Homo sapiens: one gene and its partners. The protein of the gene in region 1 purifies or fractionates together with the protein of each later gene. This does not show direct contact. Each region holds a gene or a part of one and is shown on either strand. Other genes may lie near its edges.

Region 1 (4,330 bases):
TCCTCAAGTCTCTTTCCTCTTTCCTTCCCTTCTCTCCTCTTTTCCTTCCCACTTAATTCTATAACTGACATAAAATGGAGTCAAGTCATACACACACACACGCACACCCACACATATCTCTCCATATCTCTCTTAAGAAATAAATCTGTTTTTTTTTTTTTTTTTGAGATGGAGTCTTGCTCTGTCTCCCAGGCTGGAGTGTAATGGCACAATCTCGGTTCACTGCAACCTCCACCTCCCGGGTTCGAGCAATTCTCCTGCCTCAGTCTCTTGAGTAGTTGGGATTACAGGCGCCCACCACCACACCCGGCTAATTTTTGTATTCTTAGTAGAGATGGGGTTTTGCCATGTTAGTCAGGCTGGTCTTGAACTCCTGACCTCAGGTGATCCGCCCACCTTGGCCTCCCAAAGTGCTGGGATTACAGGTGTAAGCCTCCATGCCCCGCCTGAAATACGTCATATTTTTTGAATAAGGTCTTTTATGTCCTCTTTTTATAGTGGGAAAGTTGAACATGTTATAGTTCTCTCCCCCATCTTAGCCTTTATGAAATTGCTCTCTTTATTGGTAACTGGCCATTGTTGAAATATCCTTTCCTGTGATTCTGTGGGGTTCTGTCTTACAGAAAGAAAAGCATCCACTTCCCATGGGGCCTTATTCAGATAAGTTGCATTTTAGTTATACTTTGTTCAGTGGCTCTGCTGAACCATCTGTGGGTTCATGGTTAGGTTTTCATAGTAAGGGACTGGAATTCAAATGCAGCACCCACAAATAAGACTCTTGGCCTGCAGCCATCATGCTGGTTTAGAGTCTCTCAGTTACCACCTGGAGGATGAGAAAGAATTCATCCACATGGCTTTCTTCTCTCATTTCTTTGAAGATAGTCCCTAATGTAATGGCTTAGGTGGATTTCGCTACAGCAGCGGTTCTCAAACTTTGTGGTTTCAGGACGCCTTCGCACTCTTAAAACTAAATGACTGAAAGCCCCATAAGATTTGGTTTATGTAAGTCATATCTATTGATATTTACCATATTGAAAATTAAAATTGAGAAATTAAAAAATATTTATTCATTAACTAAAAATTACTGTCAAATTCATTACATTAACATAAACATTTTATTTTATTATTTTATTGAGATGGAGTCTCAATGTGTCATCCAGGCTAGAGTATAGTGGCGCAATCTCAGCTCACTGCAACCTCCACCTCCCGGGTTCAAGTGATTCTCCTGCCTCAGCCTCCTGAGTAGCTGGGATTATAGGTGCCCACCACCATGCCCAGCTAATTTTTGTATTTTTAGTACAGACGGGTTTTCACCATGTTGGCCAGGCTGGTCTTGAACTCCTGACCTCAAGTGATCCTCCCGCCTCAGCTTCCCAAAGTGCTGGGATTAAAGGCATGAGCCACCGTGCCTGGCCAACATAAATATTTTAATAAAAATTACCATATTTTCCAAAACAAAAAGACTAGTGAGAAGGGTAGTGTTTTCATTTTTTGCAAATCTCTTTAATGTCTCCTTAATGGAAGACTGTTGGATTCTCATATCTGCTTCTGTATTCATGCCATTGCTGTATGTTTGGTGAAAGTAAATATAAAATATTTAGCTATGTAATTCAGAAAAGGAAAGAGTATTTTAGTCACCTTTTCAAATAATTGTGAATTTTCTTCTCAGATACTCTACCAAAACTTGACAAGTGGTAGTTTCTTAAAGGCTAGTTGCAATGCGGAATCTGAAGCCATATCAATAAACATTTTGTACTCTGTTACATTATAATCCACTAGTCTGTCTTGCATTTTGAGTGGATCTTCTTTTCCCATATGTGAATTTCATACAGTGGTTGTTTGGAAAATACTGGTTCACTGAATTATATAGTACTTCCAAATGTGGACACATTTTCTTACACAATATTAAAAAAATTACAATCATCAATATCACCAGTGTGATATCATTTGAAAATTCTTTCAGTACTAGGAAGTTGTCAAGCTAATGGTGGCAAATACATGTTTTCCTGTATGCATTCTCATTTATACTTGAAGGCTCAAAGTTGTGATTTATAACAAATGCTGTCAGTTTTTTCCTCGAGACGACAACCACATTGTTCCTTTTGGAGAACATGTTTGCCAAATATCCAAGTCTGAATAACCATAGCTTGTCTGCTAGTTGGTCTTTTAAATAAAAATGGTGCTTTATGAATAAAATGGCCAGTTCAGCTTGCAACTCACACAAATGCACATGTGCTTTTCCAGGAGACAACCATCAAACTTTGGTGGACTTCCCATTTCATCACATAAAATTGTTAATGAAACTTTTTAGTGCAAGTGTATGGTAGTGAAGAATACAGTAATTACTAATACAGTTTGGTGCGGTGCCTTGATTTGTAATAAGGTACCAGCCATTTATTCATCCTTGCTTTTGCATCACTCATGCAGTGAAAATGGCAAATAACAGCTGGGTATTATTGTGAAAGAGTTTTAGCCTCAAGTGCCTCCTAAAAAGTTCTTGGGACTCTACAAGAACCCACAGACCACACTTTGAGAATGGCTGCCCTATTGCATAAGGGAATCCTGACTGGTTACAGGTTTACGACCTTATAATATGTAGCTTGACTTAGCGTTAAGCATGATACCCAAAAGTGTTGGAAGATGATTTACTTCAAAACCCTCTGCAACATAATCTCTATGGCTGGGACCAGGGAATCTGATTTTTTGATAAGGTCCTCAGAGAGATGTTTGGGAACTACTGATTTAAAGCATTACTTTGCTTGTATGAAACTACTCTGTTTTTCTAAAGCCAAAACCATGGCACAGTCTCATTGCTTGTACACAAAATAATTTTAGGCAAATATTTCTTAATTTAATATTTGTATGCTTATTTTAAAGCCTATTACCTTATTTTATCAAAATTTGCCATCAATTATAACTTCCACAAATAAAAAAATGCAGCTAATTTAAACTGCAATGCTTCTTTCATAGATTGTAATATGCATCCTCATTTCAGGGATAAATTTGTAAAAAATATAAAAAAATCAGAATTGATGGAAATAGGGTAATATTTGTTTAACACTTAGGAAGCGTGCTACATCCATGTATTCTATGATATAAATCAGTGTTTGTCAAACTTAAATGGGCATATGAATCCTACTGTGAATATTCACTAGGTCTGGAGTTGGGTTTGAGCTTTTAAATATCTTACAAATTTCTCAGCTAATGCTGATACAGCAAGAATATAAGGTAACTTTAAAAACAAATAAGAAAAGAAAATGAATCAATGTAAATACAAATATTAAGTAAATTGACAGTATTGGTGTTAACATGGCTATTGCAAAACTTGTGATGGCAATAGGAGAATAAAGTCTGAAGTCAGGGAAAGGCTGCCATAGCTGATAGTTGAGCCATATTTTTAGTCCTCCTGGAAAAACAAGGCTTTTCCCTGTGGGCCTCACTGACAGTTTTCAAGTAGAGATTTTTTCTCCCTTCATTTACTCTAACCGTGACTCAGAACCCAGTATCTCCTAGTAGTATTACCTAGATGATGTTTGAGTTATCCCTCCATATTCCTGCAATGGTGCATCTAACCTAGTTGGATACTTTTAGGCACAACTCTTTTCCCTTTGATAGGCCAAAGATTCTTCTTGCTTTAAATTAAAATCTGGCTCTCCATTTGTTCTCCATTTGAACAGCAGAAAGAGTTCAAACCTTCCTACGTGACAACTCTTCACCCTTTTGATGGCTGTTCTGTGTTCTGCTTAGCTTTATCTTCTCCATGCTAAATAGCCTCAACTTCCACTGGTTCTTCTATGATGTGCTTTTGAATCCCTTACCATCTCAGTCACTCTTCCCTGAACCCACTCCTGTTAATCTTTTAAAGTGTGATATCCAAACCACATGTCACCCTCCACTGGAGTGTGCCCTCACCTCTCTTGACCTAGGTGTCATGCTTGAGGTGGTGATTGCCTGTTGGCAGCCACGTCTCACACTGCTGACGCACCACTCCGTGTCGAGCAAAGCCCCTCAATCCTCTCCGTGCATGCAGTTGCTAAGTCAGATCTTCTCCCTATATTTGTGCAACTGTGAGTTGGGACCCAGGGGAAGACCATTCATTTTTGACTGATAAACTTCACCTTGTTAGATCTGACCCAAGTCTCTAGGCATGACTCATGCTGCCCACTGAGCACCACCCTCTAGAGTTTCCTTAATTAGCCTCTTCTCTGTTCCAAGAGCAGGACCTGCTTCCAACGTTGCATAGCTGTGCCCCTTCAACCACTCTGTTCCTGTCTTTAAGGGCCTTCTAATTGAGATGACTACCCCCGCCTGCCTAATCTCCATCACCCAC
Region 2 (4,330 bases), on another chromosome or scaffold:
TGATTTTTTGATAGCTAATATTTGCTTTTTTGAATTATTATTTTTTTTACACCAAGACATGTATTCTCAAGACAGAGTAAATCCTCCCAGCTCTGAACACCTATTCTTACCCCATTTGCTTTGGGTAGCCACTATCTCTTATTTCCTGAGTTTGTATTTGCTTTTGAAGTTCTTTCGTGATTTTTTCTCCCCAAAAATAATTAGCAAAATATTCTGTTAAAATTTTTGATTTAACGTTTCTGAATTTAAAACTATGCTGTCCTTAATGCTTCTTTTCTTCTCTCTCCTTATGAATGTTTCCTCTTTGGCAATTGCTTTTAAAGTGAACCTATCCCCGCTTCGTGTTCTGGGGGCACCCACCCTGTAATGGCGAGACTTCCTAGCCCCACTGTAGCTAGGAGCGCTGTGCAGCCTGCCAGGTACTGGACAGATACAGATGCATGCGGCACCCGGTGCAAAGGTGCCGAACAGCAGATGCATCCTAAAGTCTTGAATGTCTGTCGTTTGTTTGACAAACAAGTCAATGCCGTGAGTTGTTCCAGAATGCGTGGCATTTTGTTTTGTCATAGCACAAGGTGCTGATAACCACATGCTGGCGTGCGTGGGAAAACATTTTGTCTCTCTGCATATGTTATGTGTTAGAACTAGGATCACACTAACTCACGTATCCAGTTGCTTTGTTTGTTTTTCATAATAATGGTCATCCCTCAAAAATTTTGTTCTTCATCTAAATACTGTTATAGCACTTAATAAAGATTAATAGAAAAATGGGACATTGGCCAGGCGCGGTGGCTCATGCCTGTAATCCCAGCACTTTGAGAGGCCAAGGCAGGTGGATCACGAGGTCAGGAGATTGAGACCGTCCTGGCCAACATGGTGAAACCCTGTCTCTACTAAAAATACAAAAATTAGCTGGGCATGGTGGCATGTGCCAGTAATCCTAGCTACTTGGGAGACTGAGGCAGGAGAATCGCTTGAACCTGGGAGGCAGAGGTTGCAGTGAGTCAAGATCGTGCCACTGCACTCCCGCCTGGTGACAGAGCAAGACTCTGTCTCAAAAAAAAAAAAAAAAAAGAAAGAGAAAAAAAGAAAGAAAAAAAAAGAAAAATGAGACATTAACCTGAATGTTGAAATGCTGATAAGACCCAGTCTTTTTCAAACACCTGTAGACACAAATACAGACTGAAAACAATCCTCCCTCTTTCTAATTTATAGAGTCAATGCCATTATATTTTGGGACTGGGAAAATAACAATTTGTAGTGTCTAAACGTAGATGTTTTACTGTCGTGTTTCAGATTGTGGTGCTTTAAAATTATGTCCTCACATCAGGTCATATCCCTTCATTTTACTGTTATATGAGCCAAACCGCAAAAGCTAAAAATAATGGCAGTGCCGGGATAAAGCTGGTACACCCACAGCAGGGCCCTCCCGGAGAAGTGGGTTTCCCTGCCCTCCTGGTTACTGCACGAGGTCCACGGAGGACTCTGAGGCTCAGGTGGCTTTTTTGTCACTGGCCTCATTATACACCTGGAATATGGAAGCTGGCTACTCTTTGGCCTGGGATAGCCTGTGCATTGGGGATTCACTAGAATCAAGGCAGAATATCTCCTTTACTAGATCTGACAATTGGATCGGTCAGGGACAGAAGATATAGTGCATTACAAACCCCTAGAGATTCATATTGACCGTGAAGACTTCAGGCTTTCCTTCTCTTCTAGCTGGAAGTTGGAGGGAGCTATTTATTTATTTACTGATTTATGTATTCATTCATTTATTTTTGAGACAGAGTCTTGCTCTGTCGCCCAGGCTTCATCACTGCACACTGCAGCCTCTACCTCACAGGCTCAAGCGATCCTCCCACCTCAGCCTCCTGAGTAGCTGGGATCACAGGTGCACACCACCAAGCCTGGCTAATTTTTATATTTTTTGTAGAGATGGGGTTTCACGATGTTGCCCAGGCTAGTCTCCAACTCCTAAATTCAAGTGATCCTCTTGCCTTGGCCTTCCATAGATATGAGCCACCAGACCTGGCCAGTTGGAGGGATTTATAATCACCTGAAATTTTCTTTACTCCTCTGGTTACTGGAAATTGCAGATTTAAGTACCTTTTAGAAAACTGGTAGGAACCTATGAGAGTAAATGCTAAGCTGAAGCAGTGACTCTTTAAAAATTAAGCCATTTGTCTTTAGCAAGTAAAAATCAAGACCTTCTGTTATGTTGTTGACAGAGGACTATATCGTTTCCTAATTATTTAAAATGAAAGACCACCTTCTGAACCATATCTTTAGATAAGGTCTAAATACACCGTAGGTAATACTTTGTGACTCCCTTTCATTCTACTTATTACGATACTAACAATGCCGCCTCTCTGTCTAAGATAAGGTATAGCCAAGCTGACTTCAATGTCTTAAACAGGAAATTCGTTTTGTAGAAATAATTCGGAGCTCAAAGTCTGCTCTTTGTAGAAGTGATGATGCTAAGTGTCCTGTGCCGACTCTGCTTGTTGAGTAGCTGAACAGCTGCCTGCCTCTGTCCTAGACGTGCTTAGGGAAAAAGAAGCCCTTTGCAAAATGATGTGACACTTGGCAGAAAGTTAACGTAGAAACTTAGCGGTGTGCTTTTGTTTGTTGGTATATGTGTTGCTGACATTTTATTTTTTTCAGATTGCAGGCCTCTGCTCACCAAAAGGCCTTAGCCAAGGACCAGACAAATGAGGGCAAAGAGCTTGCTGAGCAAGGAGAACCTGATTCCTCCACTCTAAGCTTGGCCGAAAAGTTGGCCTTGTTTAACAAATTGTCCCAGCCAGTCTCAAAAGCGATTTCTACCCGGAACAGAATAGACACGAGACAGAGGAGAATGAACGCTCGCTATCAAACTCAGCCAGTCACACTGGGAGAGGTGGAGCAGGTGGGTGTGCTATAGTCCGATTGCAGTTTGTGTGTGTGTGTTCTTAAATTATAGCACTGCAGTATTCCTCTGAGGTCAATGATGTAATTAAGGTGCTCTACCAGGAAACTGCTACCTGTAGGTGATTTGGTAATAGCTTTCTTCCTAAAAATGAGAATTCTACCAAGTATGTTGCTCTTTTTTTGTTTTCATACCTTGCTTGCTGAAATATCTAGAATGAGTCCATTTTGGAGAGAAAAAAATAGTATGCCCAACTGTGTTTCACCCAGAGGATTTTGTTTAATGAGACGTATTATATAACTATGTCCAGGAATGGTTTTCCACTAAGAGAAACAGTGAAACTGCATCAAATCGAGTATTTCAGCTTCTGTCAATTCATAAACCAGGATTTATATAGATGATATTTTTCAAGCAGCTTTTTAATTTTTAACTGTGTCCTTCCAGGTGCAGAGTGGAAAGCTCATTCCTTTCTCACCTGCCGTGAACACATCAGTGTCTACCGTAGCATCCACGGTTGCTCCAATGTATGCCGGAGATCTTCGCACAAAGCCACCTCTTGACCACAATGCAAGTGCCACTGACTATAAGTTTTCTTCTTCAATAGAAAATTCGGACTCTCCAGTTAGAAGCATTCTGAAATCGCAAGCTTGGCAGCCTTTGGTAGAGGGTAGCGAGAACAAGGGAATGTTGAGAGAATATGGAGAGACAGAAAGCAAGAGAGCTTTGACAGGTCGAGACAGTGGGATGGAGAAGTATGGGTCCTTTGAGGAAGCAGAAGCATCCTACCCCATCCTGAACCGAGCCAGGGAAGGAGACAGCCATAAGGAATCTAAATATGCTGTTCCCAGAAGAGGAAGCCTGGAACGGGCGAACCCTCCCATCACCCACCTCGGGGATGAACCGAAGGAATTTTCCATGGCTAAAATGAATGCACAAGGAAACTTGGACTTGAGGGACAGGCTGCCCTTTGAAGAGAAGGTGGAGGTGGAGAATGTTATGAAAAGGAAGTTTTCACTAAGAGGTAAGTGACCAGTGCCCCTAAAGCTTTAGAAAGCCACTGGGTTTTAGTTTCTGCTTGATTTGTCCTGTGTCTATGATGGCTTTTAACAAAGTTCTATAGGCAGTTTACAGCTAGTATTGGTTAAAAGTTCAGCGGGAATCCTATTCTTCCCTGGATCTGACTAGAGGATACATCAAGTTTTCAGCAATAAAACTACTGGAAGAGCTTTCACACATCTTCATGGAGTTTCTGTTGACTTTGGTCACTCACACAATGGCCTTCTGAGCTGCTTAGTTCTGGTGGCCCCTTTTAGAAATTGATGACCCCAAAGGTCCAGGCTGGGTAAGCACAAGGAATTCAGGAAAGACTTGACCCCAGTCTCTGAATCGCTAGAGTGCTTCTTCCTGCATGCCTGTTTTGCA
Region 3 (4,330 bases), on another chromosome or scaffold:
TGCACTCCAGCCTAGGCAATAAGAGCGAAACTCCATCTCAAAGGAAAAACAAACAAACAAACAAAAAGCACTACTCACCTAATAACTCAAACCAAGTTACCTTTCAATCCAACATCTTCCTTAATTCCTATTCCCATATGATTTTTTACCAAACTTGGATAGAGGTTATCTCCTAATAGCACTGAACACTTCCTAACTCCCTCCACCCCTTTTGCTACCACCCTGGCTCAAAGCAACAGTGATTGCCTCCTTGTTGCTCTTCATGTCCTGTTCTGGTTTTGCTCCAAATGCCCACAGAGCAGTCTCTAAAAAAACAAAATTCTGCTCACAGATCTGGTTTAAACACCCCAAATGGTTTACACTCCACTTGGAATAAAATCCAATTCTTTAATAAGAACTTTCATGATTGGGCACTTGTGTATGTTTTCATTCATTCTCTCTCTCCCTCTCACTCTCTCTCCTGCTTTTTGATTCCTTAAATATGCCATGCTTATTTCCACTTACAGATCTTCAAAGTGTTGTTTTCTTCTATCTCTCGGCTAAAGCCTTGTCCTGTTTAGTGCTCAATCTTCAGTGCCTAAGAAGAGTGAGTGGCAAATAGTAGATACTTACTTAGTAAATACTGGTTAAATGAATGGGTTGATTAATGAATGAATGAAGGAAGGAGATGATATATCCATCTATCTCATAGCAGGGATTAAAATGGTTAAATACTCCATGTTTATGAGAATGTAGGTTTAGGATTATTGTTAAGAATTATTTTTAAGGTTTCTTATAGAGACAATTAGGGTATAGCTATCAAAAATTAGACTAGGAAGTAGACTGAAAATTAATGTGACGAATGACCAATTTGTGACACACCCAGTTACCCAAAATCAACTCAGTTCACCTAAATTCAATACAGCAATCTCAATTATTGAGGATATTTTCCTGAAAGTTTTATTTTTTTGGATCTCTGCCAGATCCAGTTGCCTAAATTTTTGGAATGTCAGTTTTATGTGTGGTTCACATTTTAATTGCTATTTCTCTACACTTGATCTTGTATTTGGGAATGGCAGATTCTTCCTTTATTATAGTTAACTGTGTTGTGGTTGTGGGGAGATATGCATCCTGCTTTCACGCCCACATTCGCCTCTACACCTGCTTCCACCAATGGCCACTGAACAGTTTTGGCCAATGTCCTAGATCTGGTTTAGGAAAATGGACCGACGATTTCCCACAGATGAATATTTAGTGATTTGCTCAAGGTCACCACAGCATGTCGGTAGCTGGAAAAGAATAGAGATCTCATAACTCAGGTTCTTTAATTTTTAAGACTCAAACTTATTAAAAACATATTAATTGCACAATGTCATTTAAGATAGAAAGGAGGCAAGGGATATACCTAATAAAAGTAATATGACAGCTCTCACTATGTAAATTCTTGTCTGCTTCAAAATTGTCCTAAATTAGGTATAAAACTGGCTTTTTAAATAGCAAATGTATTAGAAAATCAGAATATTTGAATTTTAGAGTTAGACATTAACAGTTCGGGAAAAATACAAATGGCTGCTGAATGCAGTTATTTATTACTAGCTCTGCTATGAAACCCTAAAGGATACCTTTCTGTCACTCCTATTTTGCTGCTATTTGTATCCGCTTTGAAAAAATATTTCCATTCAGATTTTGAGTTCTCGGTGGGTATCTTTCGCCTTTACCTTTTGCTTGTCACTTGGAATTAAAAGGAATGTGTATTAGAAAGTAAATAGAAATGCAAATGGTAAGTTGAGTAGGAGAAAACAGTTGAAGGTTGTTTATTTTTGTTTTCTTAAGAAATGAAACAGCTGGTTATTTATTTCTAACATGCTAATCAAATAAATAGAACTCATTCTTCCTTCACATCCCCTGACTGGGGTTAATAACCAATGGGCTTTAGGGATTCTATTAGCTGTGCTATAAATGATTCAGTTAGCCAAGTTATACAAAACTGGCACATTCCCCCACACCAGAAAATGCACGTTTCCTTCCTGTTGTGTTTTGGGGTCCCTCTGCAAAATCACCAAGATCCAAGCCAAACTCAGACTAAACAGAGAACCTTTTGAAAAAAAGGCAGTTGTGGTAAATTAAATTGCACAGCTATGAGATCAAATGATTTTATCATCATTCTCAAAAGAACCCACTCAGCGCAGCCATGAATGAATCTTTCTTGCTGGAAAATACATCCATCTTCATTGTAAAAATCAGTCAAGGTGAAACGTAGGAGGCATTTTCTTCTCTGGGACATTCACCACTTGTGTTTCCTCATCTCAGGCTTTGATAAAATAGAGTCCAGAGCCAAAGGTGGCATGAAGACCCTAACACTTCAGGACTCTCAAGCAAGAAGAATGGGAGCAATAGAAAGGGGAGTGAAGAGAAATAGGAAATAAGATGCTCATTCCTTTAGTTTACATCCTTCTGCCTGTTTTACCAGTCTCTGGTAAAGAATATACAATGTACTTAGTATTAGAATATACTATGTCTAGGCGATAGACTAATTTATAACTGGATAGAATAGGTTTCTGACCAATAGGTTTAAAAAAAAAGAGTTTTTATTTCTCTTTTAGGACAATTTGGCTTGAAAATGTTAAGAAAGAAAAAGAGCACTTTTGCTTCACTTCTCAGCCTGAATTTTCCATGCCCATGGTGGTTTCTTTTTCCAAACTGTTCCTTAACATTTACTAGCATCTGAACTTCCATTCCCGATTCCAGGGCACTTCGAGCCATCCAAGATATCCAAAGAGAGACCCCAAAGTTGTTAAATATGAAAACTGACATTCAGCTGGGTGTAGGTGGGGTAAAGTGGACTGTGGGGTATAAAAAGTGTACATGGGAAGGGAAAAGTGAGGTGTAGAGAACAGACTGTGAGCTGGAGGATTCGGAATCTACTGTCGTTCTAGTGATCGCTGACCAGGAGACCTTGGCAAGTCACCTACTTTCTTTGTAAAAAGGTTTTGCAGTCCGGAAGTGAGGATTATAATAATTTGGTCTTCCAGTGTGGTGAGGTGAGGAATGACCTGTGTAACTGTGGCTGTGACGTTGACGTTTGGGCACTCAGCAACCTGGAGGAACACACGTATTGGCTCTTGTCTTCCAGATCACTACATGCAGGTGCTTGTTTGTCAGCATGAATGTGTGAGGGAACTTGCCACCCGCCCTGGCCGCCTCTCTCCCATCGAGAATTTTCTTCCTCTGCACTATGATTACCTACAGTTTGCCTACTATCGAGGTAAAGCGTGGATCATCCGTGAAGACTTCTTGGGGGGTTGTGGTTCATCATTACAGACATCACATTTTTGTAATTGAGTTTTCTGACTTCTTCAGTTTATTATGAAAGCAATAGGAATTTATGCATTTCTTCTCTCCTGAGCTGCAGGACAAGAAGAGCAGAAGGGGATATCACCAATGGGCAAAGTACAAAATTTAATGCTGTGATAATTTACTGAAAATTATACTAGATTGACATTTTGCATGGTTTTTTAGACTTAATTTTTTTAGAACTGAATTTAAAAGGAACTTTGCAAAATCCTCTTCCTTTCCAAAAACAAAACATTATTTATTATCCTGGCGTTGATGGCACACAGTGAATCACGTGCTCAAGTCATAAACAGTGAATCAAAGATGAGAGAGTTGCTTAATTTTTATCATTCCTTTTAAAAATCAGAGTCATCTCAGAGTATATATATATGTGTGTGTGTGTGTGTATGTATTTATTATACACACATACATGCACACACACACATATATATACACACATACGTATATTGTAAATTTCCATTAGAAGAAATACAATGTTGTGAACTATTTGAAAACAAGGCATACAGACATTTAAAATTTCCCTTGTAATAGCTAAATATTTCTATAATGAAAAGTTTATATTGGAAACATCCTTGTTAGTTCCTTTTAGTAGTTTGCTACTGTAGGATGTGCTATAATTGTATAGTGAAGGATTTAAGGGGCTTCCTCCAGAACATCTGGGACTCTATGAAGGACTTTGCATTGAAGTACCAGTTTACCACAAACTGCAGCAATGAAAAATAACATTTTAAAAGCACTTATGTTACTCATACATTATATATAAAATGGTACATTACTGTTGCAAAGATCACCTTCAGGATGTTTACTTAACCCAAACTCGGTACAAAAATCAGAATTAACTCATAGAATTCTGCTGTTTATATGTGTTAAATAATAAAAGTTGTCAACAAACATCTTCAGATAGAAACTTGACGATTTGCACAAAACAACTAGTACCAAAGCAGACCAAAGGTAATAACTTTTGAATACTTGAAATCATGTCTTTCCTTTTATCTGT
Region 4 (4,330 bases), on another chromosome or scaffold:
ACAAAAACAAAAACAAAAACCTTTTGGCCATTCGAGGTGTAGATAACTTTAAAACCAAGTTATTATAGAATAAGAAATTGGGTTTACTCTCTTTTAAAGTCTTAATAAAATGCTTAATGAAGTCGTTTCATTGTTCTCTTATTAAAAGGGTCCATTGTGATACCTGTTTCTCCTGGTATACTGACCATTTAAACATGGACAGAAGTTATTTCCTCTCTGTCTATAATAACTCCTCCTCCTGTTTTCTCTATCACAACACACAGTTTTTTTGTTTTTAATTTTTAGCGCATGAGGGCAGGGCCTATGTTTGTCTTGTTCATGGTTAATCTCCTTACCTAGTGCCTGACACATGTAAATGTGCAATAAAATTTATCAAACAAGTAGTTTCTTTTCTTTTTTTTTTTTTTTTTTGTTCCAGAAGACAGGGTCTCACTCTGTCACCCAGGGTGGAATGCAGTGGTGTGATCGTGGCTCACTGCAACCTCCACCTCCTGGGCTCAAGCGATTTTTCCACCTCAGCCTCCTACAGGCGCGTACCTTTACTGGCCAATTTCTGTATTTTTTTTGTAGAGATGGGTTTTCACTATGTTGCCCAGGCTGGCCTCGAACTCCTGGACTCAAATGATCTGCCTGCCTTGGCCTCCCAAAGTGCTGGGATTACAGGTGTGAGCCACCACGCTTGGTTGTAAACAGGTGGTTTTTTATAAAATCTTTCCTAGGTTAGATTTTTGGGCGTTTGTTAGCCAGAGTATCAACAGATTCACAATATGTATGGATTTAGTCCAGCCTTTTTTTTTTGATGAGATTTACCATATCGCTTCAATTTACCATATATTTTGGTGTTACTAAGCAGATTACTTCTTTTGAAATTTGAGTTATGCTGCCTCTTTTTAGTAAAGAATGTCATTGTTTTTAATACTCTTTTTCTTTCTTTCCTTTCTTTCATCTTACCTGTCCAACATGACAAAGCTAAATTATGATGAAGTTGATCAAGCTGAAAATATTATTCCTCTAATATTTAGCACATGGGATTTTTGTCAGTGGGGGTGGAAGGCAGACCGTAGTTGAAAATTGCATATATGAAGCCAACATGTATTGACCTCCTGCTCACACAGAAGGTCAGCCAGCTCCAAAAATATTTTGTCCTAATGCGTAATAAAATGTTCCCCCTTTTCTTACATTATAGTAAATCAACAGACTGCAAAACTTATACCTTCTATTTGGGCTATCTATGAAAGATACATAGGGATCCCCAAATTGGTGAATATCATATCTGACAAATACAGTCTAATCATGGCATATGTGAATAAGTAGATGATGGACTGTAGTTGGCCAGTGGCTAGACAGTAGTCATTTATTAACTAGGCAACCATTTTGTGCACATCAACTCCTTATCACAGAACCTTTGGCATTACTAAAAGTGTACTGTCAAAACCATGAGTGATAAATCTGTGAACATAAAAGGGTATATTTTATAAATGATACTCTGCCCTTTATTTCCTGAGTTAACTATTTCCTACCTCTAAAATTTCCTCCTATCCTGATTTTTCTCATCAAATAGAAAAGGGATCACAAACCTTAAGATACCTGGAGATAGAAGGGCTTTATTTTTAATAGGGCATGGAGTTGAGTGACTTACGATGTTGTAAAAAGATCATCATAAACTGTGTTCCTCCTACCTTCAGTGAAAGCTCTTTAGCTCCTAGAGAGCAGCAGAGAACTTTATTTGAATAATTGAACTATATACATTTATGTTTTGTGCTTCTTTTCTCTCAGAATTGAACCAGATGAAATAATCATAGAATTGAGGTACAAAATCATAATCTTTAAGTGAAAATCAACCTTCACATTAAAATAAGAATAAAAATGGAATAGTTGTGTAGTATACATTTAGGTAAGCCTAGGATAAAAAGAGAAAGATATGCAACTACTCAAGAACAGAAAAAAAGAACCACTATAGAAAATTTGTTGATGGTTAGAAAATAACAACAAACAACACTAGGTACAGAGATTACATGATCATTTATTAGACCACTAGTCTCACATTTTTACTTCTACTGTAGTGTAGTACCTTTCTATTTCAGACTAATGCCAGTAATCTTTGTAAAATTCAAGTCTGAATTTCTTCAGTGACTTATCATCACTTAAGGATAAAATCAGACTGCTTAGCTTTTAATCATGGGATCCCTTCTTATCTGTCCAGCTTGGTTTTTTTTCACTCTGCCACTCTGCTCTCCATCTCAAACTTTATCTTATAGTAGTAACAGTATTCACCAGATATATTGCATTTCCTCAAGCTTTTTTTTAAAGTGTGGTCCCCAGAGACATCAGCATAACTTGGAAACTAGTTAGAAATACAGTTTCTTGGGCTCTACTTCAAGGCCTACTGAATCAGAAATCCTGCGGGGTAGGGCTAAGCAAGCTAAACAAGCCTTCTTGGTGATTCTGATGTACCTTATATTTGAAAACCACCACCTTAACCCTTTTCTTTTTTAACCTCAGCCATTAACTACCATACTTTCAATATCACTTTTATTTGTGCAACTCTTAATCTACATCTCAAACTCTATGTCAGTCCTATTTTTTAAGTTGTATATTGGACATCTGTCCTGGATATCCTTTCAGTAGTTCAGACTGTCTAGGCCCTGAGCAAAATTCATTATCCATCTCCTGATATCTGCTTTACATACTGTTTCCTATTTTCTCTCAGCCATGCAGCTTTAATTCTTAGATTGTACAATATTTTCTCATTATTTTTTATGTTGTCTTGCCATAGAGGAACAGGAGAAAAAAAGATTTTTTAAAAACTGTACTAACCAAAAAAGGGTGAGGATTTTTCAGGCAATAAAGTTACCATTGTTTGTAGAGCATCTGTTAAAATGTATTTTTATCTTACTTCTTCCCTCCTTCCCTCTGCCTCTTTCCTTGCTATATCCTTCTTTCTCTCTTAAGAACTTAGAGACTGTATTTTGAACCTTAACCTCAGTTGTGCAAGTTCTGTGGCAAAGCTGGACAGGTGAAAGCTTGTACCAGCATCAGATGTTGAAGCCAGGCAACATTTCAGATATCCCTGAACAGTTCTTACAGTAGGTCCTCAATAAATATTTTCTAAATGAGTAAGTTAGCAAGTAGATGAGTCTCAAAAGACTGGGCAGATCTCCAGGGTCAAAAGAGCATGGTGAGATTGTGGCTGGAGATGTAAGAAACTTAAAGGATTTAAGCAATAAGGAGTGAGAAATTTTGATAATAAATGTTTATTAAATGAATAAATGAAAAGCTTTAAAGAACAGATAGCCATTGTCACAAATGGTCAGGTATTTCCTTCTCTGAAGGAGGGATAAATTATTATTTCAGTGAAAACTTTGAAGTTTGATTTTTAGAACTCATGTTTATATGGGTACATCCCATTTTTTTTGATATACATTTAAAATAATTTCTTATGTTGATTTACGTAACAGTATTCTAATGTTTGAGCATATATCTTAGACTATAAATTTTAATTGTTATAGTTTGTTCCATTTTTGTTGAACGGGAAAAACTGATACATATCTTTAAAATTGTATATTTAAATTACCTTACATATGAGGAATTTTTATACTTGAAAGTTATTGTTATTAACTTGTTTTCATAATGTGAGATATTCTGTCATAAAGCACTTATGTTTTAAGTTGTAATTTAAAATACCTTTCTTTTTAACATGCACACAGGAAACCTCGACCTGTCTCCCAGTTGGTTGCACAGCAGGTTACTCAGCAGTTTGTGCCTCCTACACAGTCAAAGAAAGAGAAAAAAGATAAAGTAGAAAAAGAAAAAAGTGAAAAGGAAACAACTAGCAAAAAGAATAGCCATAAGAAAACCAGGTAAATGTGAAGAGTGTTTTATGACATTTTTGAAATAATAAAACCATTTAATTTTTTTAACCTTGACATACTAATATACACAAAGTGGAAGTAAAATATTTGGTCTCCTTTATTATAAGGTATCAGGAAAGGTTTTACTGAGTTTGAAAGATACATAGGAAATTAAACACAGAAGCCAGAAATACAAGCTTAAATGTGATGATGCTTTTTTCTTTTTACGAGATTGGAAGACATTTGTGTCTGGATTTGTTTTGTTTTGTTTTGTTTTTCCCTTAAGAAGAGCTATTTGAACCAGGAGTGGTTTTCAACATACCGAACAGATAATTGCATGGGTTTTAACCTATCAAAATGGTCATGCGTTCAGTCATAACAATCATGATACCCTTATTAGTGTGTGTCAGTGGAGTAACAGTCTTCCTTGCATATAGCTCAACCTTAGCTTTTATCACCTTCCTCCATGGTGCAACTAT
Region 5 (4,330 bases), about 65 Mb from region 1:
TACGCCTTCCTGCCCTTGGCCTGAGAAGGGCTTCTCCAGCACCTCGGGGACCCCAGCCCCCAGACCCTGGGGTGGCCACTGCCCCAGAAGCCGGGCTGAGACAGGATTCAATGGGGAGGGCCCGTGGGCAGGGCAGAGGCTTGGGCCCCTGGGAGACCTGGCCCTAGAGAAAGAGGCGCGGTGCTCACCTTTGCCCCGGCCTTGCAGGCCTGGATGGCTCTGCCGCCAGCCTCTTTTCTTGTCCAGGCTTCAGGCTGAGCATCTCTTAGAGGGCCTCAGGGATGTCCAGTCCTGCCCTGAAGGCCGCTGAGGACTTAGGATGGTTTAATACTGAACCCACAGCCGCTGGGGACGCCTTGAGGGGAGCCACAGTGTGTGTGCATGTCTCACTCTGGGCTAACTTGTGAAAGGGTGAACAGCTCAGGGGCCCAGAAAACTTAACTCTGGGGCAGGCAGAGGTACAGGGGAGGGCAGATGATTCAGACCCCACCCTGATGGGCCGGGCAGTCACTGCAGAACCCAACCCGGTGCAGTAAGCCACTGCGGGCAGCTGTGGCCCAGCCCCAGGCCCCAGATATTGGGAGGGGCCCCTCTCCTCCCGGCTGTGCCACCCTCACCAAAGGGTAAGTGGGCCAGGACAGAAGGAGCAGGAGGCAGAGCTGCGGCCCCCTCTCAGGGAGGCACCCTCATTGGATGACCCTGTCATGGCCAAGCCTGACCCAGGCTCACTGGGAGCTAAAAGGCAAAGAAGAATAAACCCACATCTGCCCTCAGGGAGCCCAGTGCTGAGAGGCCTGGCACTGGGACAAACTCGCAAACCAGAGTCCTTGAGGGCTGGAGGGGGCCTCCCGGGGCAGGGCATAGGCCACTGCAGGGATGGCACGGAACAGGGCAGCGGAAAAGGCAGGAGTCCGAGGCCCAGGGCCCTGCCTCTGGCGGCTGGGCGCCCTTGGTCACATTGTTGGTGCTCAGAGCCTCAGTTCCCACAGCTGTGCAGCGAGAGGAAGCTGACGGCACCGACCATGGCTGTGGAGGCCTCATGTGTCAATTGTTGCTGTTCTGCAGGAGGAAGAGGATGGCAGGGCCACGCCCCAGCCCATGGGCCAGGCTGCTCCTGGCAGCCTTGATCAGCGTCAGCCTCTCTGGGACCTTGGGTGAGTCCACGTTGCCCTGCAGCCCCCTCCTGGCAGGATCATCCCTTGGGCAGGCATTGCCCTTGCACGGGGATCTCACGGTGTCTCACCTAAACACGCTTGGCCATTCAGCAACTGACCACTGCCCACCTTCAGGGCTGGAAAACTTGAGGCTCCAAGCTCTTCAGCCTAGAGAAGCTTGAGCCCTGACCACGGGGCCTGAGAATAGGAGCGAAGGAGGCTGTGTCTAGAGGAAAGAGGAGACACCCACCCAGGACTGAGGCACCCAGAGGATGCACTGAGGCCCCAGAGGTGTAGTCAAGAGGGTTATAGGAATTTGGAGAAGAGAGGCACTGCTGACGTGTCACTTGCTCTCTGAGTGTCACTAGTGGACAAATCACTGGAGCCAGCTCCTACCACTTGAATTTTGTCTGTTAGAGGGGGTCCTGCTGGTGGCTTGAAATAGACCACGACAGAAATGTTTACACCACAGAAATTGGCAAACGCTACACGTCAAGCACCAGAGACCAGAGCCGTTGTTATTTTTTTATTTAATTCAATGTATATGTAGAAACATGCTCTCACTCTGTCGTCCCGGTGAAATGCAGTGATGCCATCGTGGCTCACTGCAGCCTCAACTTCCCAGGCTCAAGCAATCCTCCCACCTTAGCCTCCCATGTAGCTAGGACCACAGGCATGCACCACCATGCCTGGCTAATTAAAAACAATTTTTTTGTAGAGACAGTCTCACTATGTTACCCAGGCTGGTCTCAAACTCCTGAGCTTAAGCAATCTTCCTACCTCGGCTTCCCAAAGTGCTGGGATTACAGGTGTGAGCCATCGCACTGGCCACCACAGCCATTGTTAAACACTGACCAGCACACCATTGCCTGAAGCCCAGGAGACCTCTTACTGTGTACACCAGGTGCACACAGTAGGTCCTCACTGTGATTTTTAACTGAGCAGAGCCAAAGGGAAATCTAGAGTTTTACTTCATTCGTTACTGAGGACCCACTGTGTGCCAGGTGTGCCGGGTGCTAGGGCTACCGTGATAAACAAGACACCATTCCCTTCACCCTAGAAGGGGCTCAGAGGACAGACAGGCCATGTGGCAGTGGTCTCGCCGTGAGGCACAAGCTGTGATGGAGGAGGTACCTGAAAAGGGTGCTAGGTGCAGCTCATCAAAGGTAATGGGGAAGGCTGAGGACCGTCTGGCTGGACCTGAGGAGGCAGCAGGCCAGGGGGTGGCCAGGGTGTGCCAGCACCGAGTGTGCCAGTGCCACTGTCTCAGTCCCCACCTTCTGTCCTTCTGGCTTGAGTGGGAAGTCCCAGGTTTGAAATCACAGCTTGTTTCTAGCTGTGCTACCTGGGGCAGATCACATACCCCTGGCCTCTGTAAAATAGGGAACGGCTGGGTGCAGTGGCTCACGCCTATAATTCCCAGCACTTTGGGAGGCCAAGGTGGGAGGATCTCCTGAACCCAGGAATATGAGACCATCCTGAGCAACATAGGGAGCCCCTGTCTCTACATAAAATAAAAAATTAGCTGGGCTACTTGGGAGGCTGAGGTGGGAGGATTGCCTGAGCCCAGGATGTCGAGACTGCAGTGAGCTGTGATCATGCCACTGCACTCCAGCCTGGGCGACACAGCAAGACCGTATCTCAAAACTAAATAAAATTGAAATGCAGGTTGGGCACAGTAGCTCACGCCTGTAATCCCAGCACTTTGGGAGGCTGAGGCGGGCAGATGATTTGAGGTCAGGAGTTCGAGACCAGCCTAGCCAACATGGTGGAACCCCATCTCTACTAAAAATACAAAAATTAGCCAGGCATGGTGGTGCCCACCCATTATCCCAGCTACTCGGGAGGCTGAGGCAGGAGAATCACTTGAACCTGGGAGGCGGAGGTTGAAGTGAGCTGAGATCGCACCACTGCACTCCAGCCTGGGCAACAGAGCAAGACTCGTCTGAAAAATAAAGTAAAACAAAATAAAAATACAACAACAACAACAAACCAAAATAAATACATAAGGCCGGGCCCGGTGGCTCCCACCTGTAATCCCAGCACTTTGGAAGGCCAAGGCGGGTGGATCACAAGGTCAGGAGATCGAGACCATCCTGGCTAACACGGTGAAACCCTGTCTCTACTAAAAATACAAAAAATTAGCCGGGCGTGGTGGCGGGCGCCTGTAGTCTCAGCTACTCCAGAGGCTGAGGTGGGAGAATGGCGTGAACACGGGTGGTGGAGCTTGCAGTGAGCCAGGATCACGCCACTGCACTCCAGCCTGGGCAACAGAGCGAGACTCTGTCTCAAAATAAATAAATAAATAACATAAGGAGGGAATCCCCATCTCTCCAGGTGAAGGTGCAGGTGGGAAAGTGCTTGCCTTTGCTGAGCGCCTCCCCATTCATGTGCCCACATCTGTCCCCCCAGCAAACCGCTGCAAGAAGGCCCCAGTGAAGAGCTGCACGGAGTGTGTCCGTGTGGATAAGGACTGCGCCTACTGCACAGACGAGGTGAGGACCTGGCCCGGGTTGGTGTGGAACAGGCAAGGGTCGGGAATAGCTGGTGGAAATGAATCTAGGGTTGGGGCAGCCAGGGAATGGGTGCTGCCCCCAGTGACCCCCTGTCCTTCTGGCCAGATGTTCAGGGACCGGCGCTGCAACACCCAGGCGGAGCTGCTGGCCGCGGGCTGCCAGCGGGAGAGCATCGTGGTCATGGAGAGCAGCTTCCAAATCACAGAGGTGCCTGGTGTGGGGACTGGGGTGGGGGCTCCCCATGCTCAGCCTGGCTATTTATGGGGGTGTATAGTGCCCCTTGGCCGGGCTGGGCCCCCATCGGGCCTCCGGAGTGACCCTCTAGCCAGCTGTCCCCTTCCACTGGCTGCAGGAGACCCAGATTGACACCACCCTGCGGCGCAGCCAGATGTCCCCCCAAGGCCTGCGGGTCCGTCTGCGGCCCGGTGAGGAGCGGCATTTTGAGCTGGAGGTGTTTGAGCCACTGGAGAGCCCCGTGGACCTGTACATCCTCATGGACTTCTCCAACTCCATGTCCGATGATCTGGACAACCTCAAGAAGATGGGGCAGAACCTGGGTACGGCAGGGCCAGAGTGGAGGACAGCAGGGCAGGAGGGGGACAGGTGGGCGTCTGCTTGGGAGGCCAGGACTCAGGACAGCTGCACCCACCCAGAAGGAAA
Region 6 (4,330 bases), on another chromosome or scaffold:
TTTGGGAGTGATTTTGTTGGGTTGTTATCGAGCCATTTCTCTTTATTCTTCCTGGGTGTTCTTTTGAGACTTCCCTTTAAGTTAGGTTGGATTAGGTTATTATAGTTGTAAAAACAGTAGCTCAAATGAAGACATAATTACAATAATTACAATAATTACATATAATTACAAATACTGACTGGGCTTCTGCTGTGTGCCCAGCTCTGTGCCAGGCCGAAGGAAACCCAGTGCCTGGCAGACTTGGCTTGCCTGGCTCACTAACATGAAACAGTGAGGGCAGAGCGCCTTCCTTTTGTACCTGTGCTGCTGCCTTACCCGTGTTCTTGTTCTGACATGGTGGAGAGCTGTCATCTAGGAGAAGGAAGCCGGCAGAGGTGGCACAGTGTGTTTTACTCCGCCTGTGACATTGTTTGGCACTGTGGTGTGGACTCGTGGGCCTTGGATGGTTCCATCTGCACCTTTTACTGGCTGTATGATCTTAATCAGGTTCCTTAGTCTTTGAGGCTCAGGATCTTCCATTATAAAATAGAGATTATAATGCCTCATTCCCATGGCCCTTTGCTTTAACACCCCCCCGCCCCCCTTCAAGAAGTAAGTGTTCCAGGCTACACAAGAAAGTGCAGCCTGTGGAGTATAAGCAGGCATTTTGTAAACTTTTATTATTGTCATTTTCCTGAATTTTGCCTATATGTAGATGAATGATAGAAGAACCAAACTCGTCTTTTCCTTAAAGAGACTTTGTATCAATAAGTAGAGAGACCAGAATGGGAATTCTGTTACAATGATTTTTTTCTACCTAAGATATTATTGTTTGGAAACTGTTCAGCAGTGCTTGAAATTGCTGAGAGCTGTACTGATGCTCTGACAATTTCCTGGGAACCCATCCTCTTGCCTTTGGGATTCTTCTTATCCTCCTTTCAAGGCTCAAATGTCCTCCTTGTGGTGGGCATTTGTTAGGAACTGCTCAGGACTCTTTGTAGCAGGCGTTCATCTTTTGTCAGCCTTTGGCCTTGTGGGCAGTCATTGATGAGCTGAAGAGAGCAGTCCCAGCTACTGTGGATGGCAGAGAAACTGCATCTTCATTCTACTGAGGGTGTCCATGTTGGTTTAGAAATAACATTCTCATTGGGATAAAACAGGTATCTTTTTACCTACTGTCTTAAAAACTTAGATCTAAATAGTTTGATACCATTTGGAACAGGTGTCAGCCTGCAAGCTATAAGAAACCAAAAGAGAAGAACATGCAGTCTCTTCTTTTGGTGTCTTTCTTCATCATTTCTTTCTTTCTTTTTTATTTATTTGTTTTTGAGGCAGGGTCTCCACACTCCGTCACCCAGGTGGGAGTGCAGTGGCATGATCATGGCTCATCACAGCCTCGACCTCCTGGGCTGAAGCAATCCTCCTGCCTCAGTTTTTAATTTTTTTTGTAGAAACAAGGTCTCACTATGTTGCCTAGGCTCTTCTTGAACTCCTGGGCTTGAGCAATCCTCCTGCCTGGGCCTCCCAAAGTGCTGGTATTACAGGCGTGAGCCACCACGCCTGGCCTATCATTTCTAATGTCTAAGTGATTGCTCCCTCATCTGAAGTCAGGTAGCACTTAATATACTTCCTGCTCTTCGGGTATTACCTTTTATTTATTACTGACACATACTAGGCCTCATTATCAGAAAAAGATTTTAGCAAACTTTTGGTAGTCTTTACGTACCCAGTGTTGTTAATAAGCGTTTCATGGGTGTGTGCCTTAACTTCCCTAGACCCTTGGAAGATGGCATGGCTGTTAGCCCTCTTGTATTACTCTCCTTGCCTGGGGAAAGCTTTGTTTGCCTGCAGGGGTTGCTCAGTGGGTGATTGCTGATTAGATGGAGCCGTGGCTGACTACTGTCTTGCCTCTTCTATTTAATGAGATCTGTATGTTTTGGAGGCCTTCTCCAGAAACAGAATGGTCTATGATTGCTTTTCATAGCAGAAATCTCATCTCCTTTGAAAGGTCTAATGTCTTTTTAAAAATTTTTGCTTATTAATGCCTGTGTGATTACAAGCAATTTGCTAGTGATTTGAAGAGTTTGGAGGGCAATTGAAGGTGTCACATGCCACCATATGGTGAAGGAAGACGCTCTGCAAGCAGTTCTGACACATTTTTTTGTTTTTAAATTAAGCTCCAGAATTGTAATTGCTTGTAAAATCCTTTTGATAGTTAAATTCCAGGTGGTAGAAAATCTTTCCGTAAAGATACTGTAAATAATTACACAGACCATCTGGCTAGATGGTTTTCTTCCCCCATCCATTTGGGGGGAAAAAAAGGAAGAAAGAAACTGCTTGCTGCAGTTGGAGGTTTTATTTCTTGTGATAATCAGCTTCAGTACTAGAGTAAACACTCAGTTTTTAAATCACAACTAACAATTGAAATCAGCATTGCTTGAGAGGAAAAAAAATTGCTAACAAAAGCAAAGCCACATACCTGCCAAATCTGACCTTGAATTGGTCTGCCAGCTAGTACTTATTGGACCTTACTGTGTATTCGGTACCCTGCTAAAGGCTCTAGGAGGTTCTCTGCCCATAATTTAAAAAGTAAAATATCTGTTGCGTCATAATACAAATGAGATGTTTTTCATGAACATCTGTCCGTATTTTCCATTGTAGGAAGTCAGAATATTTCACTTTGCCTTGCTATCTGCCTGGCTTAGCTGTCTGACCACTGTCTAGTTTGAGCAAAGATGAGGAGAGAGGTATGGTGTTTGGCTTCCTCCTAATTAAGAAGAGTCCAACTCTGAAAAATACTGTGCATTTCTTACATTAAGAGTTTGCTAATACATTGGGTAGAATTATACCAATTAGAGGAAATAAGAGAAAGAATAAAAAGTCAGACTTGAAGACTGTGAGGAAATGAGCAAGTTGAGAATCTCAGGCACAAGGCAAAGTTATTAAGATACTGATAAAATGTCTGGAATTGTCTCAACTAGGTTAAAGTAAGTTCGTAGATGCTGCAGCAAAATTCCGTGTGGGTGATTTATCTGTGAGATCAAAGGCATAAATGATCAAAATTATTGTTAACAGTTTCTAAAACTAATATTTAATAAGGGGCACAATGAGCTTATTGTGTGTCAGCTTTAAAAAGCATATTCCTATCAGTGGTAGTGGTCTCTGAGGTTGGGGGCTCTTCTTGGTAGTGAGGCCTATCTTCCCCCTTCACTGTTCACCTACTCCCTGACTTAGGGGCTTGTACATGTGTACAAGTCCTTCTTCACATCTTTTTGCTTTCATTTCAGGGTGGATTACGTGGACTCTTTGGGGCGTTCCCGGCGCTGTATGAGAAAGGATTTGCCAGATCTGCTGGAGATGGATAAAAATCTTCAGGGGAGACTGTAAGTGTGTGTGGTATACAGAGCTCTGCCAAGGTCTGAAATGCAGCCACAGGGATTGTTTTGTGAGGGGAGGCTGTTTTATAATTAATGATCTCTGTTGCTCCAGTAAGGAGATATTGATTGATTGATTGATTGATTGAAGCACTTTTTAGTGGTTAGCATGCACATACACACATAATCCACACTTGGGGAACAACCTGACTGGTGGATGAGTAGAGCTGTCTCTTTTACTTGGAAGGATGTCTGACAACAGAGTAACAGAATAAACCCAAACGAAACCAGCAAACCAGGCTTTGTGGAGACAAGTGGTTTGAGAATATACACTTGATTATCCCACAAACAAGTGGCTCTAGGGAGAGAACTTACTCACTTTTTCTTTATGTATCATTGCATTTTTGAAGTAAGGGCCTTATAACTAGATTTTTCAGCAGGGCCTAAGACCTAAGACATAACTCTAAAACGTAAGACCTAAGAGATAACTCTGAAACATCCAGGGGAATAAATTCCTCTTACCATAGGAACTTTTATGTGAAAAGTGTTGGGAGAAACTCCACCTTGTCCAAGTCCTGCAGGTTCAGGCATCCAGCACATAGCCTTTGGCTTGGCATAAGAAAGGGAGAATGGAGGCTGGGCGCGGTGGCTCACGCCTGTAATCCCAGCACTTTGGGAGGCCGAGGCGGGCGGATCACAAGGTTAGGAGTTCGAGATCATCCTGGCTAGCACAGTAAAACCCCGTCTCTACTGAAAATACAAAAAAAAAAAAAATTAGCCAGGTGTGGTTGCGGCCGCCTGTAGTCCCAGCTACTCAGGAGGCTGAGGCAGGAGAATGGCGTGAACCCAGGAGGCAGAGCCTGCAGTGAGCCAAGATGACGCCACTGCACTCCAGTCTGGGCTACAGAGCGAGACTCCGTCTCAAAAAAAAAAAAAAAAAAAAAAAGAAAGAAAGGGAGAATGGAAACCTTTGAGCC
Region 7 (4,330 bases), on another chromosome or scaffold:
TAAAACTCAGTAAGTGGGCTTAAGGCAAATCGAATACAGCAGAAGAGAGAATCAGTAAAACGAAAGATGTATCAGAGGAAATTTTCCAGAATTTGTCAATTACAAAGTGACAGAAACTTAGAGAAATGAAGAGACATGAAAGATAAAGTATGATGACTTAACATAACATACATCTATACAGAGTTCCAAAAAAGAGAGAGAATGGGATAATATTCTAAGAGATAATGATCATTTTTTCAGAACCACTGCAAGATCCAATCCAGATTCAAGAAACAACAAATTCCAAGCTGGATACATAAAAAGAAATCTACAATCAGCACATCACACAGTTCAACTACAGAATATCAAAGACAAAAAGGATCTTTAAAACAACCAAAGAAAAAAGATTATCTTCAAATTGGAAACCATTAAGACTGATAGATGAGTTTTGAAAATCAACAATGGAAGCCAGAAAATATTGTCAGTAAGAATATAATTAGGGGCTGGGTGTGGTGGCTCATGCCTGTAATCCCAGCACTTTGGGAGGCCAAGGCAGGCGGATCACTTCAGGCCAGGAGTTTGAGACCAGACTGGCCAACATGGCGAAACCCCAGCTCCACTAAATACAAAAATTAGCCGGGCGCAATGGCATGTACCATAGTCCCAGCTACTCAGGAAGCTGAGGCATGAGAATCACTTGAACCCAGGAGGCGGAGGTTGCAATGAGCCAAGATAGTGCCACTGCACTCCAGCCTGGATGACAGGGAAAGACTTTGTCTCAAAAACAAACAAACAAAAAGCATATAATTAAACAACCTAGAATTCTAAACCCAGGGAAAATATCTTTTAAAAAGAGTAAACGGAAATCGTTTTCCACCCAGCAAAAACACATTTTTAAAAAAAAAGTCTAAAGAATGTATTTAAGCACAGAGCATGGTGGCTCACACCTGTAATCCCAGCATTTTAGGAGGCTAAGGCAAGAGGATCATTTGAGCCCAGGAGTTTGAGACCAGCCTAGACAACATACTGAGACCCCGTCTCTACAGAAATTTTTAAAACATAGCCGGGCATGGTAGTACATGCCTGTGGTCCCAGCAACTCAGAAGGCTGAGGTGGGAGGATCACCTGAGCCCAGGAGGTCAAGGCTGCACTGAGTCATGATCATACTCCTGCACTCTAGCCTGGGCAACACAGTGAGATCTTATCTAAAACACACACACACAGAGAATATATTTATACATATATAATTCCAGACATGATACAAAGAGTGAGCCAAGAAAGTGCTAAATATATAGGCAAAGCTAAGCAAATATCATTCTTTGTATTTCGGGGAAAGAGTAAGGTTCCTGATTAACTTTAAACACTGGTAGGAATATAAGACCAGAAATTTAGTATCCAACTTCCAAACTAGCAAATGAAAAAAAATTGTGTGAAGAAAAATAAGAGCCTAAAAAGAAAAAAAAGAAGAAGAAATAAAACCAAATGTCAATAATCATAAAAAATGTGAGTAGACTATACGTTCAAGCTAAAGGACAAAGATTGTCATACTGAATTATAAATTAAAACCAGCTCTATACTATGTACAAGTAATATCCGAGACATGAGGATACAGAAAGACTGAAAGAGTGGGAAATTATATAAAGAGAAAGATGATGTGGCTATTAATATAAGACAAAATAGTCTTTTAGGCAAAAACATCAGAGATAAAGTCACTACATAATGACTCAATTACCCACCTTCAAAGTATTTAAAGCAAAAAGTAAAAATCACAAATCCATCATCATACTGGCAAATTTTAACAAACTCCTCTTAGTAACTGATCAAGCATATCAAAAAATAAAAAAAGTGAACAACACAAAAAGCTCAAGTAATCTATAAATTCATTTCAAACATACACAGAACTCTTACAAAAAACTGATTACATACTGGACAATAAAGGAAGTCTCCAAGTATTTCAAAAGATTGGTTATCATAGCAATCTTATTTTCTGACAGTATGATTGACTTAGATATCAATAAAAAATACTGCTAGACAACCTACATGTTTAGAAGAAACATACTTCCAAGCAGCCTACAAGTCAATGAAAAATAAAAATTAGAAAATATTCAGAATGAATGAAAAAAGTTAAATAACCCAACTTGAGACAGAACTAAAGTCAAACTTTATGGCCTAAAATGATCTTAATAGGAGAGAGGCTGAAAACTGAGTTTAAAAACTTATGTACTTATTTCAGGGTAAATTAAAGAAGAGAGCAGGGAAAAAAAAGGTACAACTTATAAATACTACAGATAAAAAAGTAAAGGATTCTTAAGAACAATTTTTATAACTTCTGTAACTTACAGGAAATAGACACATTACAAAAAATATAGAGTTTACATAAACTGTCTTAACAGAAATAGAAAACACGAAGTTAGATTAAAACTTTCTCAGAAAAAAACTCCACCCAGGCCCAGACACTTTTATCAGCAAGATCTACCAAGTATCTCAGAATGTTTCCAATCTTAAACTATTACAGAGAATAAAGATGAAAACAGCCCCAACTAATTTGAGTATTATAACCTTACACTAAAAACTGTCAAGGAAAAAGAGGGGGGGGAAATTACAGGCTCTGAACACATAAAAAATTCTAAACAAAACACTAGCAAACCTTCATTTGTAATAGCCGAAAGTTGGAAAAACCCAAACATAATTGGGAAATGGATGAACTACAGTATGATGGGATACACAGAACTACTGACATATACAATTACATGAATGAATTTCAAACACATTATGCTCAATGAAAGAAGCTATAATGAAAGGCAATATACTGTATGATTCCATTAGTGTGACATTCTGGAAAAGGCAAAACTATAGGGACAGATCAGTGGTTACCAGGTGAACTAAGGGCTGAGGGACGGGATAACTACAAAGACACTTGGAGAAACTGTTTGAGGTTGATGAAAGAATTCTGTATCTTAATGGTAGCTGGTGATGGTTACCCACTGTCTACATTTGTCAAAACCTGAAGAACTACACACTTATTCATTTATAATGTTAAAAGATAAATTTTACTGTATATAAATTATATCTTAATAAAGAGGAAAAGAAAAAACAAGCCAAATCCATGATTTAAAAATGGTATATCATAAACTGTATTAAACGCAAGCATACAAGGGTGGTTTAATACTAGAAATAAATTATATAATTCATTACACTAACAAATTAAAATAAATTAGATGCTCATCCCAATAATGAAGAAAACAGATTTTGTAAACTTCAACATCCATTCACGCTGAAAATTTCAAACCAGGAATAGGAGTAAAACCCTCCTTTACCCGATAAGGGATACCTACAAAAAAATTAACATCATATTTAATGGTAAATGTCAAAACCATTTTCTTTAAATTAGGAAACAAAGGTGTCCACTATTATCACTTATGTATAACATTCTATTATAGAGGCCAGAATGTCAGGCAAAAAATAAATAAATAAATAAAGACTAAAAGTAAACAAAATTAGTAATTATTCAATGATATGAATGTCTACATAGAAAGTACAAAAGAATTTACAGATAATTACAATCATTTCAATGAAGTACACTGCCAAAACAAGTAGTTACTACTTTAGAGGAAGAAGAGTCATTACTAACTGAAATATTTAATTCCATTACCTTGACTAGAATCAGTAGTGTCGGATTTCAGGGAAAGTGGTTTTGCTCCATCTTTAACTTTTTTCAAACGGTTCTTATCTCCTGGTAAAGTCAATTTTTGCCTGAGTGGTTTTAATTCAAATGCCTGAAAAGTTTTGACTTGTGTTTTCTCCTCAGGAGCTACTTCTTTACTTGAATCCTTTGTAATACTGACATTATCAGTGCTAGTTTGGTCCTCGAAGTTCAATGTTTTAGGATCTTCCTGCACATTCTCTTCTTTGCTACTCAATGCTAGTTTTTCATCCTTATTGATGCATTCTAGTTCCAACTGTATTTGTTTATACTTTAAAAGCAAATCTTCAAAAGTTTCTTCCACACAGTTTTCATTTTTTGATGAATAATTTTGTTTTCTTGATGGAGACCTTCCAAAACTTTTGGCTGAACAGCATATTAAGGAAACCAGTTTCCAAAAATTTTCCACAGTTAAATTTAACAAAAAAACTTAGATTATAGATGAATTTTCTCCCTTTTTAATTTTTCAAGAAAAATGAATCGATATTTTTAAATTACTAAATTCCATTTAATGTATGTGCAGCTAATGCCCACTTTCATTACGTGCCCATATTTGAATTTAGTAAGTACCATATAAACAGTCCACTTACAAAATCACTAGTGTCATAATTACCAGTAGTATCCACAGACAGTCCACCTAGTTAGGTT

What was found.
Region 2: the proteins of MYH13 (region 1) and SVIL purify together in Homo sapiens (affinity purification with mass spectrometry; one large-scale study listed by BioGRID and IntAct). This does not show direct contact.
Region 3: the proteins of MYH13 (region 1) and P3H2 purify together in Homo sapiens (affinity purification with mass spectrometry; one large-scale study listed by BioGRID and IntAct). This does not show direct contact.
Region 4: the proteins of MYH13 (region 1) and YAF2 purify together in Homo sapiens (affinity purification with mass spectrometry; one large-scale study listed by BioGRID and IntAct). This does not show direct contact.
Region 5: the proteins of MYH13 (region 1) and ITGB4 purify together in Homo sapiens (affinity purification with mass spectrometry; one large-scale study listed by BioGRID and IntAct). This does not show direct contact.
Region 6: the proteins of MYH13 (region 1) and CCDC174 purify together in Homo sapiens (affinity purification with mass spectrometry; one large-scale study listed by BioGRID and IntAct). This does not show direct contact.
Region 7: the proteins of MYH13 (region 1) and ZFC3H1 purify together in Homo sapiens (affinity purification with mass spectrometry; one large-scale study listed by BioGRID and IntAct). This does not show direct contact.

Annotation. Positions count from the first base shown.
Region 1 is NC_000017.11:10,366,234-10,370,563, forward strand, and holds part of MYH13 (myosin-13), read right to left. Parts: intron 1-4,330. UniProt on the Homo sapiens protein: Fast twitching myosin mediating the high-velocity and low-tension contractions of specific striated muscles.
Region 2 is NC_000010.11:29,523,050-29,527,379, reverse strand, and holds part of SVIL (supervillin), read left to right. Parts: intron 1-323; coding exon 324-419; intron 420-2,664; coding exon 2,665-2,908; intron 2,909-3,352; coding exon 3,353-3,929; intron 3,930-4,330.
Region 3 is NC_000003.12:189,987,821-189,992,150, reverse strand, and holds part of P3H2 (prolyl 3-hydroxylase 2 isoform a precursor), read left to right. Parts: intron 1-3,112; coding exon 3,113-3,244; intron 3,245-4,330. UniProt on the Homo sapiens protein: Prolyl 3-hydroxylase that catalyzes the post-translational formation of 3-hydroxyproline on collagens. Contributes to proline 3-hydroxylation of collagen COL4A1 and COL1A1 in tendons, the eye sclera and in the eye lens capsule.
Region 4 is NC_000012.12:42,161,143-42,165,472, reverse strand, and holds part of YAF2 (YY1-associated factor 2), read left to right. Parts: intron 1-3,707; coding exon 3,708-3,860; intron 3,861-4,330. UniProt on the Homo sapiens protein: Binds to MYC and inhibits MYC-mediated transactivation. Also binds to MYCN and enhances MYCN-dependent transcriptional activation. Increases calpain 2-mediated proteolysis of YY1 in vitro.
Region 5 is NC_000017.11:75,723,629-75,727,958, forward strand, and holds part of ITGB4 (integrin beta-4 isoform 1 precursor), read left to right. Parts: intron 1-1,065; coding exon of another isoform or gene 1,066-1,075; coding exon 1,076-1,154; intron 1,155-3,566; coding exon 3,567-3,649; intron 3,650-3,775; coding exon 3,776-3,877; intron 3,878-4,022; coding exon 4,023-4,227; intron 4,228-4,330. UniProt on the Homo sapiens protein: Integrin alpha-6/beta-4 is a receptor for laminin. Plays a critical structural role in the hemidesmosome of epithelial cells. Is required for the regulation of keratinocyte polarity and motility.
Region 6 is NC_000003.12:14,661,762-14,666,091, forward strand, and holds part of CCDC174 (coiled-coil domain-containing protein 174), read left to right. Parts: intron 1-3,266; coding exon 3,267-3,362; intron 3,363-3,875; exon of another isoform or gene 3,876-4,301; intron 4,302-4,330. UniProt on the Homo sapiens protein: Probably involved in neuronal development.
Region 7 is NC_000012.12:71,653,254-71,657,583, forward strand, and holds part of ZFC3H1 (zinc finger C3H1 domain-containing protein), read right to left. Parts: intron 4,049-4,330; coding exon 3,632-4,048; intron 1-3,631. UniProt on the Homo sapiens protein: Subunit of the trimeric poly(A) tail exosome targeting (PAXT) complex, a complex that directs a subset of long and polyadenylated poly(A) RNAs for exosomal degradation. The RNA exosome is fundamental for the degradation of RNA in eukaryotic nuclei.